2 linked regions of the Homo sapiens genome follow. The protein of the gene in region 1 interacts with the protein of each later gene in a biochemical or structural test. Each region holds a gene or a part of one and is shown on either strand. Other genes may lie near its edges.

Region 1 (7,347 bases):
TACTAAGTAGTGTTGCATTATTACACATACAATGGAATAGCATAAATTATGCCCAATGCACATTTTAGTAAGCTCCCACTAAAATAGCTATGTTTTCTTTGCAAGAATGGAGCTTGCTTCTACATGGGAAGAACTTGTAGCTACCTGTCATTTCACCATTGCCTCATTCAGATGGGGGTGGTATAGAAGGCAGAGCAGTCCCTCCCAAGCCTGCGGGATGCATAACTCAACGCCCCCCCCCGCCGCCCCCAGCCCTGGTTGAACCCCACTTACTATGTACAGGTAGGAGGGATAGGCTGAGCGAGGGTAGCGCTTCACCCAGGGTGGGGTGCCCGTCTGCATGTGGATGAGCGTGGCCCCCAGGCTGTAGATGTCTGCTTTGGTTGAATGGCCCCTGCACAGGATGACCTCTGGGCTCATGTAAATCTGAAAAAGAAGTGGGAAACATTCAGCTTCATTCCCCTCCTTTGTGTGGGTTTCCATTTCCCTAATCCAGTTCTGGAAATTGGCTCATTTGCCTTAAACTAGGAGAATAATGCAGGCATTCCCCAGGAACCATGCAGCAATTGCTGGAGGTGTCCCTGCAGTCTGATGAAGAACACCTGGCCGGGCGCGGTGGCTCACACCTATAATCCCAGCTGAGGTGGGCGGATCAGGAGTTCAAAACCAGCCTGGTCTCTACTAAAAATACAAAAATCAGCTGGGCATGGTGATGGGCACCTGTAATCCCATCTACTTGGGAGGCTGAGGCAAGGAGAATCGCTTGAGCTCGGAAGGCGGAGGCTGCTGTGAGCCGAGATCGCACCACTGCACTCCAGCCTGGGAGACAGAGCGAGACTCAGTCTCAAAAAACAAAACAAAACAAAACAAAACACCACCTTTTTCTGGTTGATCTGGTGGCAAAGAGCCTAGAACCAGGAATCTATCAGGGACTCCCACTCATCAAAGTTCTGCAGTACACTGATCAGGTGTAGCTAAGTTTTCAACTAAAACGCCAATTCCTTTTATATTTAAATGAACTACAAACAGACTTCTTTATCTGTTTGTCATTACACTGCTAACCTTCTAAATATCTGCAATGATAAAAGGTGATAGAAGTCTATAGGGTATTAACACAAATTTCTTGAAAGGGAAAAACTTAAAAAATAAAGTGTAATATTGTAGAAGTGATTCTAAAGAGTCATTTTTACAAACTATCTGTTATTTTTACCTACTATGTAGCCCAGTGACTAAATATTAAATGCAGCCATATTAACATTGTATAAGTTATATTTGGTCTCATGAGTCCATGCTGAATAAACAGGGCTGGTTTTATAAATAGTTTCTCTAACGAGCATTTATTTCTAAACTTAAGAAAGAAACAAAGAGAGGTGGGGCATGGTGGCTCATGTCTATAATCTCAGCACTTTGGCTTTTTTTTTTTTTCGAGATGGGGTCTCCCTCTGTCACCCAGGCTGGAATGCAATGGTGCGATCTCGGTTCACTGCAACCTCTGCCTCCCGGGTTCAAGCTATTCTCCTGCTTCGGCCTCCCAACTAGCTGGGATTACAGGCATGTGCTACCACGCCTGGCTAATTTTTGTATTTTTAGTAGAGATGGGGTTTCACCATGTTGGCCAGGCTGGTCTCGAACTCCTGACCTCGTGATCCACCTGCCTCGGCCTCCCAAAGTGTGGGGATTACAGGCGTGAGCCACTGAATCTCAGCACTTTGGAAGGCCGAGGCAGGAAGATTGCTTGAGCCCAGGAGTTTGAGACTAGTCTGGACAAGATGGAGACCCCCCATCTTTACAAATTAATTAGTTACCTAATTTAATTAAACATTTTTTTAAAAAGGAACAGAGCAAACACTGGTGACCAGTGATTTGTATTCATGGCTGGTGCAGACATATAGTAGTTAATATCCTGATTATCAGTATTTCGCTTGAAACAGCTTGTACACTGTCTGCCATGTGAATAAGAGAATGGAGGTCAGTGTTTCCGGAACACATTTCAGGGTAAGTAATTAGAGAACTAGCTTACAAAAACCAGAGAAACTGCCCAGTCTCCCCACCCTAACCCTGCTCAACTCCTTCCTGCAAGCCACTTCCGGGCCAGCTTCCTTTTGCTCTCAGCAAACAGGTGAAACTGAGCTCCCGTTCTCAAGCTTTCCCTGCAGCAGAGCCAGAGGACTTTCCAGAAGGACTTTGCTACTAAATATATCACAAACTTAAAAAATTAATGCACAACATTGTACCTATAGTCAACAATAGTGTATTGTATACTTAAAAATGTGTTGAGAGGGTAGAGTTCATGCTAAGTGTTCTTACCACAATCAAATAAAAAAGAAAAAGAAATGCAATGGGTATTATTAACTGTCCATAGAGGATGCCTATCTTCTCTCCTGTACCCCCTCCTCCCTGCCAATAAAGCAAGGATTGGGCGGAGTGCCCACTGCTGGTGTAGCCCACAGGGGTTGTGCAGAGGTGGCTCTGCAGGTTCTATGTGACTGCACGCCTAGGCAGCCTGGGGGGATGGAACATCTGTAAGCCTGGTGGCCTGGGTGCTGCCACTCAGGTAGAAACCCCAGAGCTTCCTGGCTCGGAGCTCTTGTTCCTCAAGCTCTACCAACTACCAGTTAGATCAGGGAGCAGCAGGGCATAATGTTCGAGCACTCTGGCTGATTAGAAGGCATGAAACAGCCCTGGTGGGACCAACACAGGGCTCTCTGAGAGTTCTGCACCCTCGGGGCAGGGCACTGGAGCAAGAGAAAACCTTGATGTCAGCGATCGAACCCTTCACCTTTCAATATGTTTATTAGAAAGGGAAAGAGACCGTGTGTGTGCGTATATGTGCATGTGATGACTATATGTTAACTTACAAAGGTAAAACCAAGCAGACTTAGAAGGATTTTTCAAAAAGGACCAAGTTCTAAAAGTAATTCTGATTTGTTATTCGCATTCACTATGTATTCTCTCTCTGTACCTTGCAACTCAAAAACAGTCTATTCTGTATATGCTGGATTAACCCTGGATGTGTATTACATGGTTACAATAGAATGCTCTGAATACCAATGCTTAGAGAGAGCAATCAAACAGGGGTAACCAGGGTTTGCATTTGGGAGCTATACTGCAGAAATCAGAAATTGTCTATGACTGTGCAGTAGCCACATGATCAAATTCTAACATCAGCCAGTCTGCACAGTTGACTAATTAGATCTCCTGGCTCTTTAAGTAGGAAGGGTAAAAGCAAGCTTGTTGAAAGGTTTCACTGGTCACTTCACAACTTTGTTCATTATCAAACTTCAACTCGTGTGTACTAGGCAGATATTAAATGCAGGCTGATTAGAAGAGAGTTTATATTTATAAACACCAAGGCACAGTTTTGCACTTCACAAAAAGCAATTTGCATTTGCCAAAAAAAACCTGATCCAAATACTACTCAGGAGTAAAATATGTTATTATCTCATATCCATGCATTCCGCTAGACAGCCCCAGAAAGAACACTTCTTTCTCCAATGTTGCAAAATGTTCAACTTCACCACATTGCCAGGAAGAGAAAAGTATTTTCCATCTTTAATACCATAAATAGTTTGTTTTTCAAACTGGTTCCAGGAAAAAGGGTGGTGGAATATTACATATCTGAACTCCTGACTAATGCCAAATATGCTGAAACATTTTCCAAAGAAAACATGTCGTAAGCATTAAGTCTTATTAGACCTCACACTTTGGTAAAGTATTCTTAAGATCTGGGGACTAAGCATTCTTAAAAAAAAAAAAAAAGTACAGCTTCCCTTCTGAATATTGTTCTGCTCAAAGACAACCGTCAAGAATCCTCGCTCGAGCATTTTCAATAATAACTTCAGTAATATTCACAAAAGCAAGGATTTCTTCTGCTGCCCGGGAGAGTGCTGGCTTTGAGAGAGTTGAGAAAGGACTTACAGAATCTTGGCGTTTTTTTTTTTTTTAGGACAAGGTCTTGTTCTATTTTCCAGGCTATGGGTGCAGTGGCATAATCACAGCTCACTGCAGCCTCATCCTGGGCTCAAGCAATCCTCCCACCTCAGTCTCTTGAGTAGCTGGGACTACAGACATGCACCACCATGCCATTTTTACAAAAAGTAAAGTTTTTGTTTGTTTGTTTGTTTACTTTTTGTAGCGATGGGGTCTCACTATGTTGCCCAGGCTGGAAGAATCTGGTTTGAAAGGAAGACAATTTTTTTGTGGCTGCAATCCAGTTCAGTGCAACACGTATACTAGCTAGACTAGACTAAGGGTTGTCATCTGATTGAACACCAAGACTGACCTGGTAATCCTGACATAGAGGTGCAGCCAAAGACCCTCTCTCTATTTCCTATGGGCACTTCCAGCAAAGAGAAGGGCATGGGGCTGAGTGGCTCAGGCAGTGCAGCTTCCCCCGGTAGTGGTGAGGGGCCAAGGAGGCAGCTTTTACACCCATTTACCTTCCTGCTTGCATCCAACCTTGTGCCCATCACAATCAACTGTGAACTAAACTGTTGTGCATGCTTTCTTTCTTTCTTTCCTTCTTTTTCTTTCCTTCCTTCCTTTTTCTTTCTCCTTCCTTCCTTCCTTCCTTCCTTCCTTCCTTCCTTCCTTCTCTCTCTCCCTCCCTCCCTTCCTTCTTTTTTTCTTTTTTTTTTTCAAAAGAGATGAGGTCTGACTCTATTGCTCAGGCTGGTCTCGAACCCCCAGGCTCAAGCAAACCACCCCCACCTCCTTGGCCTTTCGAACGGTTGGGATTACAGGTGTGAGAACACCACGCCCATCCCTAAACGGTTGCTCTTTTAATAATTCAGGTAATTTAAAGTAAGTCCTCCCACCAAAGAGTGAGGATCGCTGGAGTACCACTAAGGCTTGCTCCTCACTGCCTTGTGTCATGCTTCCTCGTTGGTGCTCACAAGAACCTGCCACATAGCAGATGCCCAGTGGACACTGGCTAATTGAATCACCCAGTCAGCCTAATGATGTGAATGTTAAATACATTACTTGGAAGCCCGCGAACGCATTTTTCAGAATCTCATTTAGAGTCAGGAAAGAAAGGCTTTTCTGGGTCGTTTTTTGCTTCACAGATGAGTTAAACATGAGTGCTGTTTTACATCTTTAAATAAGATACATTTATGCTCACTACTTGAGGTTTATTATAGAATTCCTAGGCTCAAAGAGAGGCCTTTAGAGTCCTCATAAATATTAATGACCATAGTTAAGACTGTCATTGAGCCAAAACTCAGTGATATTAGTTATATCACTAATATATTTTAATAATGTATGTAATATTATAATTTTTTAAAGTTATGTAGCAGTTAGACCTTAGGGTTAGACTTAGAAAGAACTGGGTTCAAGTCCAGGGTCTGTCACTGAGTGACTCTGGACACTTTATTTTAATCTCTGCAAACTTATTTCCTTGATTGTAAAATAAGAATAACAATAGCAACAACTGGGTTGTTGTAAGGATTAAATAACATACTGCTTTTTAAGTGCTAAACTTATTATAAAGTTAACTCTAATTCTATAATTATTATTAAAGCTGAACTGTGGGCCAGACACGGGGGCTCAAACCTGTAGTCCCAGCACTTTGGGAGGCTGAGGTGGGAGGATCACTTGAGGCCAACAGTTCATGACCAGCCTGGCCAACATAGTGAAACCTGCATCTCTACTGAAAAAAAAAAAAAATTAGCTGGATGTGGTGGCACATGCCTGTAATCTCAACTACTCAGGAGACTAAGAAGCGCTTGAACCCAGGAGGTGGAGATTACAGTGAGCTGAGATCATGCGCCACTGTCCTACAGCCTGGGCGATGGAGCAAGACTCTGTCTCAAAAACAAAAACAAAAACACACAAAATAAAGCCGAACTGTGGATATGATCTATTTTGGGGGGCTTTTTTTTTTTTTGAAGCAACATCTCGTTCTGTCATCCAGGCTGGAATGCCCATGGCTCACTGCAGCCTTGAACTCCTGGGCTCAAGCAATCCTCCTACCTCAGCCTCCCAACTAGCTGAGACTACAGGCGTGTACCACCACACTGAGCTAATTTTTTTTTTTTTTGAGATGGAGTTTCACTCTTGTTGCCCAGGCTGGAGTGCAATGGCACGATCTCGGCTCACCTCAACCTCTGCCTCCTGAGTTCAGATGATTCTCCTCCCTCAGCCTCCCGAGTAGCTGGGATTACAGGTGCCCGCCACCACGCCTGGTTAATTTTGTATTTTTAGTAGAGACGGGGTTTCTCCATGTTGGTCAGGCTTGTCTCAAACTCCCGACCTCAGGTGATCCGCCCATCTCAGCCTCCCAAAGTGCTGGGATGACAGGTTTGAGCCACCGTGCCCAGCCTAAACCAGTTTTTTTTTATAGAGATGGGGTCTTGCTATGATGCCTAAGCTTGTCTCAAAGTCCTGGGCTCAATTGATCCTCCCACCCCAGCCTCCCAAAGCACTGGGATTACAGGCATTAGCCACCACACCTGGCCAATGTGATCTATTTTGACATGACATTGTGTACAAATGTTCTATATTATATATATCAACATGTATATTATATTACAAATACTATTATGTATTATAAATAACATAGCAAAAAATACAATAAAAAATCAAGTGCTAAACTTAGTACTTGACACAGAGCAAGTGCTCATTAAATGTGTTCCAAGGAAAATAATGATTTAATGCAGTGGGTTTCTTCCCCTTCTTTGTCCTTCGTTCCCACAATAATTCTAGAACATTTTTTCCTTTTTATTCTTAATAAAATAGTAACCCTTTTCATGTGAACATAATTACCTCTGTTCCTCGGAGGTCCTTAGGAAAATAGACATCTTCGGTCATTTGAACACTTAGGCCAAAATCCACCAAAACAGCTTTTGTGGACATGAAAACAATGTTGCTAGCTAAAATGAGAGGAAATATTTTTAAGATAAAATTTTTTATATACCCATAAGTCAAATGAAAACATTATCTAAAACAATAATGAATCTCCAATCAGAAAAGACTGAAATGCTTCCTCTAGTGAGATGGTTGTATTATATTCAAAAGAGGAGAATGAAATTCAGAGTTGAGGTGAAAATCACTTTGGATCCATCAAGAATACAGCCAATGTGGGTATGAATGATTGTAGCCATTAATAATGTTCAAGAACTTGAATTTCAAACTCTAAGACATAAGCATACTGTTGTCAAGCCACTTTTCTAAAACAGAAAAGTAAAATACCCATCTTTTTTCCCAGTGAAAGTTGTGCCACTCTAATTTAGTACTGGCTATTAAAGGTTTACCTATTTCCTCATCATATCAGACTCCTAGAAAACAGTTAGTAAAGGTGTGTTTAATGGATTATTGTTACATTGGTATAAAAAATGAAAAAGGTAT
Region 2 (7,478 bases), on another chromosome or scaffold:
TATGGGAGGCTGAGGCAGGAGGATCACGTAAGCCCAGGAGGTTGAGGCCACAGTGAGCCATGTTTGTGCCACTGCACTCCAGCCTGGGTAACAGAGTGAGACCCTGTCTCAAAAAAATAAAAAAATAAAAATCCCAAAACAAAACCTACATGCTTACATGTTGGGAAGACAGGACCAGGGCCAGTAATACTGGGAACACAGAACTAATTCTATCTGAGGCTACCAGGAAGCTGCAATAAGCTGCTTGGTGAGTGGCCAGATACACAGGACACCAGGGAACACATGTGAGCGGAACACCAATGGCCACCGACTGCAAGTATACTGCTCTGGTTGTGAGGTCCCTGCATCCTGTCCCACCAACATTCTGGAGATGACTTCGGAGTGTCCTTCCGGGTCCTTGGTCTGTACTCATCTGTGGCTCCTGGCATCCACAACTCTAAAACCTGTTGGTGCAGACCAGGTGACCTCTAAACTTCCCTTCTGCTCTAGTGAGTCAGGATGTACCTTCCAGAAAGAGGGAGAGAGTGGAGTAGGGGAGACACTGGCTGCTGAAAGTATTTTAAATGATGTAGATACTGACAACCTAATATTAAGTACAACTGTATACACAGCATGAAAACAACCATGCCAAGTGTACACACACCTTATACACAGAGGAAAAACAGGAAGAAGGCATGCCAAGAGATTAACACTAGTCATCCCTGCACTGTGGGACTACAGCGGCTATTTTATTCTTTATTTTTCAGATATTCAAAATTGTTTTATAATTTTTTTTCTTTTTTAAAAAGGGCATGTTTCTTTTTCTCTCTAAAATCAGGCTGTGGGGCCAACCCTGGAGACAAAAACTATCTTTCGCAGACTACTGCCTTTGCAGGCTTAGTTTCTTTCCTGGGCAAACTAGGATAATAGCCATGAATCAAATGGAATAATAGATGCCAGAGCTCACCCGAATGTTTCAGATGCTTGCAAATACTATTGCACAAAAAAACTGTTACTTATACTGCTGTTGTGGTGTTATAGTTTATCATCAAAAAACAGACATAAACATCATAGACAAGGACAAAGAGAAGAAAGTCAGGATTTGCGTCTTTTTTTGTTTGTTTTTGAGACGGAGTCTCGCTCTGTCGCCCAGGCTGGAGTGCAGTGGCACAATCTCGGCTCACTGCAAGCTCCGCCGCCCGGGTTCATGCCATTCTCCTGCCTCCGCCTCCCAAGTAGCTGGGACTACAGGCGCCCGCCACCACGCCCAGCTAATTTTTTGTATTTTTAGTAGAGATGGGTTTTCACCATGTTAGCCAGGATGGTCTCAATCTCCTGACCTCGTGATCCGCCGCCTTGGCCTCCCAAAGTGCTGGGATTACAGGCATGAGCCACCGCGTCCGGACCCTTGTGTCCATTTTTAATTTAATTTTTTCAGACAAGGTCTCACTTTGTCACCCAGGTTGGAGTGCAGTGGTGCGATCTTGGCTCACTGCAACCTCTGCCTCCCAGGCTCAAGTGATCCTCCCACCTAAGTCTCCCTAGTGGCTGGGAGCACGGGCACGTGCCACCATGCCCGGCTAATTTTTTGCACTTTTTGTAGACAGGGTTTCACCATGTTGCTCAGCCTTGTCTCGAACTCCTGGGCTCAGGCAATCTGCCCGCCTTGCCTCCGAAAGTACTGGGATTACAGGCGTGAGCCACTGCACCCAGCCTAGGATTTGTGTCCTTTATCAGACACGGGCTGCATTTGCCATTGCTCCCAGCATAGAGTTGAAGCGCCACTAGTGAAAGACACATGCATGGGTGAGGGCTGGAAGGGACTCTAGAACACAATATGAGTACACGACCTTGGACCCAAGACACACATGTGTGCGTACACACACACACCATACACACCCCTCAGAATGTGTCTCCCGCACACACACCTCAAAACACCCCTAAGAACCAACCGGAACATACACACTACACAATACACACAGAATACACACAGCATACACACACCCCCCTCGGAATGTGTTCCCACACACGAACCTCAAAATACCCCTAAGAGCCCACCTGAACATACACCACACACACACAGAACCCAAGAACTGCACCAACCCCCCTCCTCAGAACCCAGTGCCTCCTCACCATCCCCCAGGACCCAGTGCCCTCCCAACCCCCCAGGATCCAGCATTCGCTTATCCCCTTCAGAACCTTGCACCCTCACCCCGCAGGACCCAGAGCCCCCTCACCTCCACCAGCACCTGGTGACGCCTCAAACCCCCCAGGACCCAGCACACCTCAGCCCGTGGTGTCCCCTTATCCCACTCAGGACCTGGTCCCCCTCTCTCCCCTAGGACCCAGGGTCCCCTCACCCCCCAGAAGCTGTTGCCCTATCACCCCCAGGACCCGACGGCCCCTTACCCCCAGGACCTAGTGTCCCTCAACCCCAGGACCCGGCACCCCCTCAACCCCCAGGACCTGATGCTCCCCCAACCCCTCAGGAGCCGGGGCCCCCTCACCCCCAGGACCCGGCACCCCCTCAACTCCCAGGACCTGGTGCTCCCCCAACCCCTCAGGACCCGAGGCCAACTCAACCCCAGGACCCAGTACCCCCTCAACCCCTCAGGACCCGGGGCCCGCTCGCTCACCCACCCAGGACCCGGCGGCCGCCACACGCACTCTCGCTCCCGCAGCTCCTCTGGTACCCGCCCTCGTACCTGGCGCATCTGGGCCTCGGCGGCGCCGCCCTCCTGCCTTCGCAGCTGCTCCCGGAAGCGCGCAACCTGCTCCAGCAGCGCGTCCACTAGGGACGGCGCGGCGTCCCCCTCCAGCGCGGCCAGGCGGGCGCGGAGGCGAGCGATGAGGGCGTCGCGGGCAGCGAGCTGGTCCTGCAGGCGGCGCAGCCGCTGTCCGGCCTCGTGGTACAGGGTGCAGAGCGCGGCAGCTGCGCGCGGGGCCTCCTCCCAGCCGCCCGACCCCGGGTCCCGGGACATGGCTGTAGGCCCGCCCGGGAGGCCGCGCGGCCGCCGGCAACTTCCGCGCCCGGGCCCCGCCGGCTGCCGCCCTTCCCGGAACTTTCCCCGGTGCGCCCCGCCCACCCACAACAGCCCGGCCCCGCCCTCCCCCACGCAGCCCCGCCCCCCGCGCAGCCCCGCCCTTCCCCGCGCAGCCCCGCCCGACGGCAGCCCGCCCAGCCCCTTCTCGCCCGGCCCCACCCCTCCCACCGCCTACAGCCCGGCCCCGCCCCTGCCGTCCGCACCCGTCCGGGAGAGTTGGCCTGGCCCCCGAGGCTGTCCACACCCCAGCTGGTGCTGGGCTTATTCCAGTGGCCCCAAACATCCGCCTCTGAGGAGTTGTCGGAGAGTCGAACTCAGCCCAGGAGTTTGGGGATTCATCAGCCTCTGATGGAAAGGAAGGGCTTAACGACAACCCCCAAGCTCTGGAGCTAAGTGTGGGTCTGAATCTCCCCGCGAGGGTCCAGGCCTTGCGGCCACAGCAGCAACAGAAGCTCCAGGAGCTGAGCTCGCAGCGCACCAAGCACGTGGCATGTGTTCCGTCACCTGGGGACACTGAGCCCAGAAAGAGCTCCAACCCCCTGCCCCGCACGCCGCTTTCTTTTTTCTTTCCTTTTTTTTCTTCTTTTTGAGACGGAGTTTCGCTCTGTTGCCCAGGCTGGAGTGTAATGGCGCGATCTCGGCTCACTACAACCTCCGCCTCCCAGTTTCAAGCGATTCTCCTGCCTCAGCCTCCTGAGTAGCTGGGATTACAGGCGCCCGCCACCATGCCCTGCTAATTTTTTGGTATTATTAGTAGAGATGGTGTTTCACCATGTTGGCCAGGCTGGTCTTGAACTCCTGACCTCAGGTAGATCCACCGGCCTCAGCCTCCCAAAGTGCTGGGATTACAGGCGTCAGCCACTGCAGACGCTGCTTTGTAAGGTGGCTAGTATGGGCCCACGGGACAACCTTCCTGCTAGATGCTGTTCTTATATAGCAGAAGCAGCAGGAAACCAGCCCCTTCCCACCCTTTCGCTTTTCCATCCCTTTCCTTCCCCAAAATTCCCAGACAAACGCTAGTGTTTTTCCACAGCCCAGTCTTCCCCACAATGATGCCCAAGCACACATGGGGTCTTTCCAAGGTTCCCTACTCAGGATAGGGCAGGGGTCTTCCCTGTGTGTGCACTTGCCCACAGGCTCCGCCCCTGAGCAGCTTCTTGACTTTCTTCCCTTATGTGATCCACAGCCAAGCCTGAGCTGAGCCTGGGAAAACACAAGCTTGTAGAATCAGACAAGCCTATAAGCAAAGCCAGAGCCACCCAAGTGCTTATGGCCCGGACATTGGGCTACACAGGCCTGGCTTTGCTATGGAAGGCTCCTTCTTACTCATCAGAGCCTGGGCTTCCTCTCAGCAGAAGGAAGGGCAGAGCGAGTGCCCACCCTACCTGGTTGGGCTGTTGTGGGGACTAGAGGGTGGAGTGTGCATGGAATGCTTGTCCAGTGCAGTGGCTGCTGCACAGCAAGCCTACAGTCCCCATGGCTATGGTTACAAACAATGCCTATTGATTGTCTGGGGCATGAGTGGAAAAAACAAAACTGGACCCAGAGCTGTTAGAGGCTAATGTGTGGCCTGGGGCACGTCATTCCAGTGACCTACCTTGAGCCTCTGCCTCAACTGTAAAAGGTGCATGTGACAATCCACAGTCTCTCATCCAACAACAGCCTTGGGGTCAGGTGTGGTGTATTGTATTGTATTGTACTGTACTGTATCGTATTGATTTATTTTAGACGGAGTCTCAATCTGTCGCCCAGGCTGGAGTGCAGTGGTGTGATTTTTGGCTCATTGCAACCTCCGCCTCCCAGGTTCAAGTGATTCTCCCACCTCAGCCTCCCAATTAGCTGGGATTACAGGCGCCCGCCACCACGCCTGGCTAATTTTTTGTATTTTAGTAGAGACGGGGTTTCACCATATTGGTCAGGCTGGTCTCGAACTCCCGGCCTCAAGTGATCCGCCTGCCTCGGCCTCCCAAAGTGCTGGGATTGTAGGCGTGAGCCACCACGCCAGGCCGCCATGTGTATTTTAGAAATGAGGATCTTTGGATTTCAAATAGGTACATATAACTGGGGGAGCCAGCTTTCAAAGAGGATCCCCTCCTTCCAATATCCATGCTCCTGTGTAGTCCCCTCCAATCCACTGGAGAGGGCTGACCTGGGTAACTAAGAGGGTACTGCAGAAATGATGGAGTGTGACTTCTGCAGCTAGCTCCCACAAGACATCACGGCTACTGCCTTGCCCTCTTTCGGAGCATTCTCTCTGGGGGAAGCCACCCACCCTATCATCAAGTAACCCTGTGAAGAGGTCCATGTGGCAAGGAACTGAGGCTTCATGGCAGCAGCCGGCGCCCACTTGCCCACTGTGGTGAAGAAGCCACTTTGGGACTGTATCCTCCGACCCTAGTCAAGCCTTCAGAAGACAGTAGCCCCCACTGACATACTGACTGTGACTCCATGGAAGACCCCGGGCCAGGACCGCCCAGCTAAACTGCTCTGAGTCCCTGACCACAGAAACTGGATGAGATAATATATGCTTATTGTTTTAAGCTACTAACATTTGGGATAGTTTGTTCTGCAGCAATGGAAAATGAACAGCTAAAATCTGACTTAGTGCTCCCACTGGGACATGGTACAGCACCACAAAACCAGACAGATTACAATTTCTGCAAAGACAGGGTGACCATTCAGACTGCGAGATGAATGAAGATCAGAAAAAGCCTTGTAGCTGTTGAAGTCAGATTTTGTACCACCTTTAAGAAAAACATTTTGGGGCCAGGTGCAGTGGCTCATGCCTGTAATCCCAGCACTTAGGGAGGCCAAGGCAGGAGGATCTCTTGAGCCCAGAAGTTGGAGCCCAGCCTGGGCAACATAGCAAAACCCCATCTCTACAAAAAGTTAAAAGAAACTAGGTGGGTGTGATGGTGTGTGCCAGTAGTCCCAGATACTCAGGAGGCTGAGATAGGATTGCTTGAGGCAGGGGTTTGAGGCTGCAGTAAATGGTGATTGTGCCACTGCTCTCCAGCCTGGGCCACACAGTGAGACCCTGTCTCTGAGAAAAAAAAGAAAGAAAGAAAACTATTTTGGGTTTCTGAGCTTTTTAGATTTCAGAATTGCGGATGAGGGATCCCAGACCTCCAAGAACACTTGTCTTAGAGGGTGTTGTAAATATTCAGTAAGGTCACATGGGAAGTGCCCAGCATGCTCTTGCCTTCAATGCAAATTTAGGTACTGGGCCAGGCACTGGGGACTCATGTGTGGACATTGTAATAGTGGAGACAGATCCTTTTCCAAAACAAGAATAATTGCAACGTAAGGAAATTTTGTGTAAGGAAAGGAAGGGGAAAATGTGTATAAGAAAACAACAGGCTGGGTGCGGTGGCTCACACCTGTAATCCCAGCACTTTGGGAGACCAAGGCAGGCAGGACTCCTGAGGTCAGGAGTTCGAGACCACTCTGGCCAACATGGTGAAACCCTGTCTCTACTAAAAATACAAAAATTAGCCAGGCATGGTGGCGGGTGCCTGTAACCCCAGCTAGTCGGGAGGCTGAGGCAGGAGAATCGCTTGAACCCGGGAGGCAGAGGTTGCAGTGAGCCAAGATAGCGCCATTGCACTCCATCCTGGGTGACACAGCGAGACTCCCTCTCAAAAAAAAAAAAAAAAAAAAAAAAAAGGAGGAACCTAACTTTAAAGAGGGTGATTAGAGACAAGATAACAGTCCAGCTCTGCAACCTAAAGGGTGAGAAGGAGCCAGGCATGAGAGTTGGCTGAGTGAGTTCACAACTGGGTATGGCCTAGAGTTGGGCAGGAGCTGATACAGGGAGCAATTTCTTTCTTTTCCTTCCCTCCCTCCCTCCCTCCCTCTTTCTTTCCGCATTCTCTTTCTTTGTTTCTTTCGAGACAGCATTTCACTCTGTCACTCAAGCTGGAGTGCAATGCTGCGATCTCAGCTGCAACCTCTGCCTCCTGGGTTCAAGTGATTCTCCTTCCTCAGCCTCCTGAGTAGCTGGGATTACAGGCACGTGCCACCATGCCTGGTTAATTTTTGTATTTTTAGTAGAGATGGGGTTTCACCATGTTGGCCAGGCTGGTATCAAACTCCTGACTTCAAGTGATCTGCCTGCCTTGGCCTCCCAAAATGCTGGGATTACAGGCGTGAGCCACCGCGCCCAGCCAGCATTCACTTTCTGTGTTCTGAAACTCATCTAGATTTGTGCAGGATGGGGCTAGTGCAGCAGGCCTAGTGTGTTCAACCCTGCATGTTCCAAAAAAGGGACTGGCCCTAGACCTTTTGGAATATCCCACCTGATAAGAGTGTCTTTGCTTATGTGGGGGCCTTGGACCACACCAGCTAGTCTAAGCTAACTTGAGGCCTTGGGTCATGAGCTTGAGCTCTGAAGGAGCTGGAGACCGAGTAACTCAGGTCAGCCATATGGGCACTCCCCGCCTATGTGATCAACCC

The links. Proteins that work in one complex are often made in the same cells at the same time.
Region 2: the proteins of MAP3K8 (region 1) and TNIP2 form a complex in vitro, tested with the Homo sapiens proteins (one study listed by BioGRID).

Annotation. Positions count from the first base shown.
Region 1 is NC_000010.11:30,451,163-30,458,509, reverse strand, and holds part of MAP3K8 (mitogen-activated protein kinase kinase kinase 8), read right to left. Parts: intron 6,873-7,347; coding exon 6,766-6,872; intron 427-6,765; coding exon 274-426; intron 1-273.
Region 2 is NC_000004.12:2,753,330-2,760,807, forward strand, and holds the start of TNIP2 (TNFAIP3-interacting protein 2), read right to left. Parts: upstream 3,008-7,478; 5' UTR 2,961-3,007; coding exon 2,685-2,960; exon of another isoform or gene 2,620-2,684; intron 1-2,619. UniProt on the Homo sapiens protein: Inhibits NF-kappa-B activation by blocking the interaction of RIPK1 with its downstream effector NEMO/IKBKG.